Linked DNA regions of Homo sapiens. The protein of the gene in region 1 purifies or fractionates together with the protein of each later gene. This does not show direct contact. Each region holds a gene or a part of one and is shown in the gene's direction. Other genes may lie near its edges.

Region 1 (3,917 bases):
CCTACTCCCTCATCCCCCCAAAAAAGTGCTAGGTCTTGAAAACTTACGTTTTCAATTGAGTACCCTACACAGCTTGGCATTTAAGACAAGATACTATCCCTATTCTATGGGATAGAGTCAAACCTATGGGATAAAGTCAAACCTTTAGGTACAGGGTTATAGGCGTTAAATTAATTCCACACTTTGTATACCATGATATGTGTGTTTTTATGCATACACGTTTTTGTTTGGTATTCGTTTATATAGCATCTAGGGATTTTGGAGTGTCTATAGAATTGCTCTCCATTTTGCTAAAGTGAAGAGAAAAAGGAAAATGAAACATGGATATGGATATGTCCAACAACACAATACAACTGTGTGCCATTACTATAGCACATTTCTTGGGTTTTGTGTTTGCTCATACTTTGTTAGAAATTTTGCCTTACACACTTAGAACCCTTATATATTTCGTTTTGGGAGGTTGTTGGTTTTTTGCTTTTGGGGTTGGTTTTTTGTTTTTTTGTTTTTTTGTTTTTTTTTTTTGAAACAGCATCTCTCTCTGTTGCCCAGACTGGAGTGCAGTGGTACAGTCACGGCTCACTGTGGCCTCAACCTCCTGGGCTCCAATGATCATCCCACCCCAGCCCCGCAAGTAGTCGGGACTACAGGCACACATCACCACACCCAGCTAATTTTTGTATTTTTTATAGAGACAGGGTTTTGCCATGTTTCCCAGGCTGGTCTCAAACTTGAGCTCAAGGGATTCACCCACCTCGGCCTTCCAAAATGCTGGGATTATAGGCATGAGCCACCACACCAGGCTTGCACCCTTATATATTTCATCAGAACACATAAAATGTTAATATTTTAAACCTAACTTTACACAGAGACAATTAAAGCAGATAGTATTTCCTTTTAATTTTTAATAATAGACTTTTTTCAAAAATAGTATTGGGTCTGTCAAAGAAGTCATAGTTTCACATGAATTGCTGAAATGCACTGCTTCAGTATTGTGCCCCTGTTCTTAGTAATAATTTGATTTACAGCTACTGCCATACCAGTACTTATAAAGGGAGTCTGATTGGGTTTTTGTTTTTTGGTTTGTTTTTTTTTTAGTTGATTGTACCTTGAATATGCAGGTTTTCCAAGTTTTTCACCAGGTCAGATAACTTCTTCCTTTCTTAAGGGAAATCAGTCAGCTTGGTTTACAGTCGTGGCTTCCAACATCCTCCCTGTGCATATCACCTCCTTGGACAGGGCAGACGCTCTGTATCAGAAGCATGCAGGTCATACGTTACTCCAGGTAAGGCAACATGCCTTGATTGCATGGTTATGGTTAGTATACACTGGGATGGTCCCATAGCTCTGTTAAGAAAGCCTTTGTTGTACAGAACTGTTATACAATATCTTGAGCTAGCTTTCCCTCACCTCATTCTCTTTGAGAATTCTGGCTATAAAGCAAAATTGCTCTATATAGACTGATCCTAGAATAGCCACACAGCTATTTTTTTCTCTAGACTACACTGTCCAATTTGGTAGCCATTAGCCCACATGTGGCTAAGTTTAAATATATTAGTGACAATTAAAATTTGCTCAGTGGCCAGGTGTGGTGGCTCACGCCTATAATCCCAGCACTTTGGGAGGCCAAGGCAGATGGATCACAAGGTCAGGAGTTCAAGACCAGCCTGGCCAAGATGGTGAAACCCCATCTCTACTAAAAATACAAAAATTAGCCAGGCGTGGTGATGGGTGCCTGTAATCCCAGCCACTCAGAAGGCTGAGGCAGGAGAATCACTTGAACCAGAGCGGCAGAGGTTGCAGTGAGCCAAGATCGCGCTACTGCGCTACTGCACTCCAGCCTGGGCAACAGAGACTCCATCTCAAAAAAAAAAAAAAAAAAAAAAGAAAATTTGCTCAAGTTAGCCAGGTATGGTGGCATGCACCTGTAATCCCAGCTCCTCGAGAGGTTAAGGCAGGAGGACCACTTGAGCCCAGGAGTATGAGGCTGTGGTGAGCCATGATTATGCCACTGCACTCTAGCCTGGGTGACAGAGTGAAACCCTGTCTCTAAAAAAAAAAAAAAAAAAGGGAAAATTTAAAATATGGTTGCTTAGTGTCACCAGCCACATTTTGAGTGCCCAATAGTGACATTGTTGCAAAAAGTTGTATAAACTCCTGACAGCCTCATCACCAATACACACACACACACACACACACACACACACACACCATACTTTGGACAATTAAGCTATAGTTCCCCGAACTCATCATCCTTTTTCCAGTTTTTATCTGTACCTGTGGCGACCGAAAATATCTTTCCACCAAATAACTTTGACTCATTTCTCAAAATATTGCTCATATATTGCTTGTTTTTGTTATATATATATAGCTTCTTTACTAATGTTTTCCTTGACTGAACACATTCATTACTCCTTCCTTCACAACCATAGTACTTATAGATGCCTCACATTACATTTCTGACCTTGTATTAGCTTACATATTATCTACCCCTTTGATTTCCTTGGGGGCAGAAACCATACTGCAAAATCTATCTTTGTGTTCTTAGTGCTAAACACAGGAGAGATTTGCTAATGAATAGATGAATAAATTACCCAGTTACAGCCAAGCGCAGTGGCTCACACCTGTAATCCCAGCACTTTGGGAGGCCGAGGTGGGCAGATCACCTTGAGGTCAGGAGTTTGAGACCAGCCTGGCTAACATGGTGAAACCCTGTTTCTACTAAAAATACAAAAAAATTGGCCTGGTATGGTGGTGCGCGCCTGTAATCCCAGTTACTCGGGAGGCTGAGACAAGAGAATCACTTGAGCCTTGGAGGCGGAGGTTGCAGTGAGCTGATATCGTGCCATTACACTCCAGCTTGGGCAGCAAGAGCAAAACTCCATCTCAAAAAAAAAAAAATTACTCAATTACTTCTAATCGTGGAAACACCTGTAAACATAAAAGCTAAATCTTATCCATTATATATGGACCCTTAACTCATAAAGACCAGGCATTAATCCTGATGGCCACACCTATAAGAACTAAGGTACTTAGAAGGACCGTGCCTTAATTGCCCAACATTAATCTATGTGAGGCCCTGTGGAGGATTCTAAAAACAGTGTCAGTGAAGCACAATTCTCCTGTCCAGAGGCTTCTGCCAGGTGCTTGCCCAATGTGTGGCCCAGAGCCCTGAGATTTGTAAGCTTCATCCCATCACAGAGTTCCCTTGCTTTTCATTTGACCCCAGAAGTGATTGCAAGTTCTTTTCAACAGTTGAATATTTGAAAGGATTTTATTCTTGATCCCTGTACAGAATTATCTTATCAGTGATTTGCTTAATGTTAGAGTTCCAAGAAATTTAATTTGAACTTGTAAATATCTTTATTTCATTGGAAGATTCCAATGGGTGGAAAAGAACGAATGGCAGGATTTCCTCCTCTTGTTGCTGAAGACATTATGTTAAAAGAAGGACTGGGGGCATCTGAAGCAGTGGCCGACATCAAGTTTTCCTCTGCAGGTAATTTTATGCCAAGCACTTTTTAAAAAGTGAATAAAAGGGCAGGCACGGTGGCTCACACCTGTAATCCCAGCACTTTGTGAGGCCGAGGTGGGCGGATCACCTGAGGTCGGGAGTTTGAGACCAACCTGACCAACATGGAGAAACCCCGTCTCTACTAAAAGTACAAAATTAGCCGGGCATGGTGGCGCATGCCTGTAATTCCAGCTACTCGGGAGGCTGAGGCAGGAGAATCGCTTGAACCCAGGAGGCGGAGGTTGCGGTGAGCCTAGATCATGCCATTGCACTCCAGCCTGGGCAACAAGAGCCAAACTCCATCTCAAAAAAAAAAAACAAAAAGTGAATAAAGCAGCCTTACCGACAATTTTTTTTATAGAAAAGTGCCTTAACTGATGAAAGCTGATTATTTTAAGGTGTACAT
Region 2 (3,917 bases), on another chromosome or scaffold:
CAGGTTCAAGTGATTCTTCTGCCTCAGCCTCCTGAGTAGCTGGGACTACAGGCGCATGCCACCATGCCCTGCTAATTTTTGTATTTTTAGTAGAGACGGGGTTTCACCATATTGGCCAGGTTGGTCTGGAACTCCTGACCTCATGATCCGCCTGCCTTGGCCTCCCAAAGTGCTGGGATTACAGGCGTTGAGCCACTGGGCCCAGCCACATCATCTTTTTATGGAGTCATTTTCCATATTTACTCTTCTGGTTATTTTTACCTTGTATATAACAGCAGTTGCAATGAGAACTTAGATAAAGGAAAGGGGCTTATAGCTAACAGCTTAGCTTCTTGTTAGTCAGTAGGGACTCTCCAGTATGTGTGTATAAATGAGGATGAACTTTTCTGGCTATGATTTTTTAAGTTTTTTATTTTTATCAGAATTCCACATGCTCATTAAATGTCAAGTTGCAATAAAGTTTGTTTTGGAAAAAGCAATCCCCCAACCCCCCTGTCCCATTTCCTGTTCCCCTAAGGCAGTCATCTTGAAACATTTTAACTAATTCTTTTGGTTTTTCATCTCCCTGTCTTTAAGCAACATGCTTATATAATTGTAACACTTGCATTTTTTTTCTTTTTCTGTTAGTTTTCTCCATTATTTCCGGGCTTCTCTCTGTGGAAGATAAGGATTTAGTTTTCTCTTATCCCTGTTTCCCTGCCACATTCAAGCTCGTTTTTGTCCCCATCCCTAGCTTTCCATTCAGAAGTGTGATTTTGGGCAGATGTGTTCATATCCATTGTGACTGTGTAAATATGCTTCACAACTGAACCATGGCGGGTACTGTGATTACTTTTCCTGCACAAGTTTTTGCTTTCCTTGGAGTTACTAATTATCTTTTTTGTTTGCATAGTGTATATAACTATGACCAGATTATTTTGAAAATAAATCCCAGTTATGTAAGTTTTTTCTTAGTATATTTAAACGCATCAAGTGCTATGATCGCTTTTATCTACTTGAGAAAAGTCCCTTGTGGAGCCTTCTGACCGGCTTGATCTGAACAGGTTACCCCCTGCACCTGAAGCATCACGGTCAGCCTGGGCTATTTTTTTTTTTGAGATGGAGTTTTGCTGTTGTTGCCCAGGCTGGAGTGTACTGGCACAATCTCAGTTCACTGCAACCTCCACCCTTGGGCTCAAGTGATTTTCCTGCCTCAGCCTCCTGAGTAGCTGGGATTACAGGCGCCCACCACTATGCCTGGCTAAGTTTTGTATTTTTAGTAGAGATGGGGTTTCATCATGTTGGCCAGGCTGGTCTCGAACTCCATACCTCACATGATCCACCCACCTCGGCCTCCCAAAGTGCAGGGATTACAGGCATGAGCCACCATATGTGGCCTGGGCTATTCTTTTTACTGTCATCTTGGGGATTTTTTTTTTTTGTTTGAGACGGAGTCTCGTTTTGTTGCCCAGGCTGGAGTGCAGTGGCGCGATCTTGGCTCACTGCTCCCTCTGCCTCCCAGGTTCAAGTGATTCTCCTGCCTTAGCCTCCCGAGTAGCTGGGACTACAGGCATGTGCCACCATACCTGGCTAATTTTTTGTATTTTCAGTAGAGACGGGGTTTCACCGTGTTAGCCAGGATGGTGTTGATCTCCTGACCTCGTGATCCACCTGCCTCAGCCTCCCAAAGTGTTGGGATTGCAAGCGTGAGCCACCGCGCCCGGCCTGGGGATTCTTTTTAGCACCTGAGTTGGAAACCCTTCTTTCTTGGATTATTCCCTTGTTTTAGTGAAGCACATCTTCTAATAGAGAAAGTGCATAAGAGTTACATTTTTGAGACCTTGTGTGTCTGCAAACTTTGATTCACTGCTCAAACTTTAGTTTGGGAGGGTACAGAAGTGCAGGATGAAAATAATTTTTCTAGAATTTTGTTCCACTATCGTATTATTACTGTTGAGAAGTGCGGTGATATTCTGATCCTCATACCTTTGTCTGAGACGTGTTCTTTCTCTTTGGAAGTGTTCCTTTTTTTTGTTGTTGTTTTTTGTTTTTCGAGGCAGAGTCTCGCTCTGTTTCCCAGGCTGGAGTGCAGTGGTGTGATCTCTGCTCACTGCAAGCTCCGCCTCCTGGGTTCATGCCATTCTCCTGCCTCAGCCTCCTGAGTAGCTGGGACTACAGGTGCCTGCCACCACGCCCGGCTAATTTTTTGTAGAGACGGGGTTTCACCTTGTTAGCCAGGGTGGTCTCCATCTCCTGACCTTGTGATCTGCCCGCCTCGGCCTCCCAAAGTGCTGATATTACAGGCATGAGCCACTGTGCCTGGCCGAAGCTTTTCTTTTCTTCTCTTTTTCTTGTTTTTTTTTGTTTTGTTTTGTTTTGTTTTTTTTTTGAGATGGAGTCTCACTCTGTTGCCCAGGCTGGAGTGCAGTGGTGTGATCTTGGCTCACTGCAAGCTCTGCCTCCCAGGTTCATGCCATTCTCCTGCCTCAGCCTCCCAAGTAGCTGGAACTACAGGTGCCCGCCACCACGCCTGGCTAATTTTTTTTGTATTTTTATTAGAGACAGGGTTTCACCATGTTAGCCAGGATAGTCTCGATCTCCTGACCTCGTGATCCGCCTGCCTCGGCCTCCCAAAGTGCTGGGATTACAGGTGTGAGCCACGGCGCCCGGCCTCTCTTAGGAAGCTTTTCTATCCTCTGTTCTACATTTCATAGTCAGTTTGGCTATGTGTCTGTTTTTATCCATCACAGACAAACTGGAGGGGCCCTTCTTATCTGGGGGCTCGTCCCATCTTATCCTTTAGTTCAGGGGAATTTTCTTAAATTTTTTATTCTATCTTTTCACCTCCATTTTCTTTTTTAATGCCTTTATTTAGATTTTGGACCTTTTAAACTAGTCTCTGACTTTACCTTTTCTCTTCAGTTTTTCATCTTTTTTGCAGAATCTTCTGGAAGGTTTCTTCAACTTCAGTTTTCAGGTCTTCTACTTAATTTTTACATTTCTCCTGTCATATTTTTACTTTTGAAGTTGTTTTTGTTCTCAGACTCTTATTTGTTTATTTAATAACACCTTGTTATTTTATGGATGTAGTGGCTTAATAAACGAGATCTTCCTAAGGATTTTTTTAAAAGGTTCTCTTCTTTCTGTCATGGTCTATGTCCTCCAGGTTACTTTCTCCAGTTTGTTCGGTACCTATCTTTTCAGTGGAGGCTCTTCTCGAGTGTCTGGTGATTCTGACTTTTCAGTGTTCCATTGGAAATTCCGTGTACCTGATGGGTTTGGTTTACTGTGGGTCTTGGGTGTTTCTCGGCCTTGTTTACTGTGGGTGATCTGGCTGGGCTCTTCTGTTGGGGAATCCCTGATGTTAGTATTTTTAGGTCTGATCACATTCTGGAGAGAAAGTATTTCATAACCTGCTGTTGTTCTGGACCTGGGTTGGTGATCTCAACATGTACTGTGTACACTTTTATTTAAGCCGTTTTCAGTAGTACCGCTGCTTTCAGCTGTGGCTTGCATCCATCCTGTAAGAGGCTCTATGTTACTCTTTCCTGCAAGTTTGCAGTTTTCTGCTGGGTTGAGTAGGGAGTCGTCTAGTCATCTGCGGATGGGAGAGGGGATCTGACATCTATCCTAACTGCTTCGAAAACAAGACTTTGAAGGGATCTTTCTATTTTTAGACCTAACTTTCACTCATATTTCCAGAGCTATGAGGTGTCACCAATCCCTAAGACTTTTAAGGGTAATATAGAGAAAATTGGCTTTTTTTTTTTCCACTGTTGGCCTAGGATTCAACTTTCTTTGGTCTGTTAAAACAGCATTGCTTTGTATATCTGTTTTCCAGCTTCTAACACTTCTGTCCTTCTCTTTTTTCTAGTGTTTTATGTCTTTCTCTCTTTAAAAAAAAAAAAAATCTCTTGCTGGGAATGGTGGCTCATGCA

The links.
Region 2: the proteins of NOA1 (region 1) and ATE1 purify together in Homo sapiens (co-immunoprecipitation; 2 studies listed by BioGRID and IntAct, with this or other methods). This does not show direct contact.

The regions. Positions count from the first base shown.
Region 1 is NC_000004.12:56,963,985-56,967,901, reverse strand, and holds part of NOA1 (nitric oxide-associated protein 1), read left to right. Parts: intron 1-1,165; coding exon 1,166-1,282; intron 1,283-3,375; coding exon 3,376-3,496; intron 3,497-3,917. UniProt on the Homo sapiens protein: Involved in regulation of mitochondrial protein translation and respiration. Plays a role in mitochondria-mediated cell death. May act as a scaffolding protein or stabilizer of respiratory chain supercomplexes. Binds GTP.
Region 2 is NC_000010.11:121,914,342-121,918,258, reverse strand, and holds part of ATE1 (arginyl-tRNA--protein transferase 1), read left to right. Parts: intron 1-3,917. UniProt on the Homo sapiens protein: Involved in the post-translational conjugation of arginine to the N-terminal aspartate or glutamate of a protein. This arginylation is required for degradation of the protein via the ubiquitin pathway. Does not arginylate cysteine residues.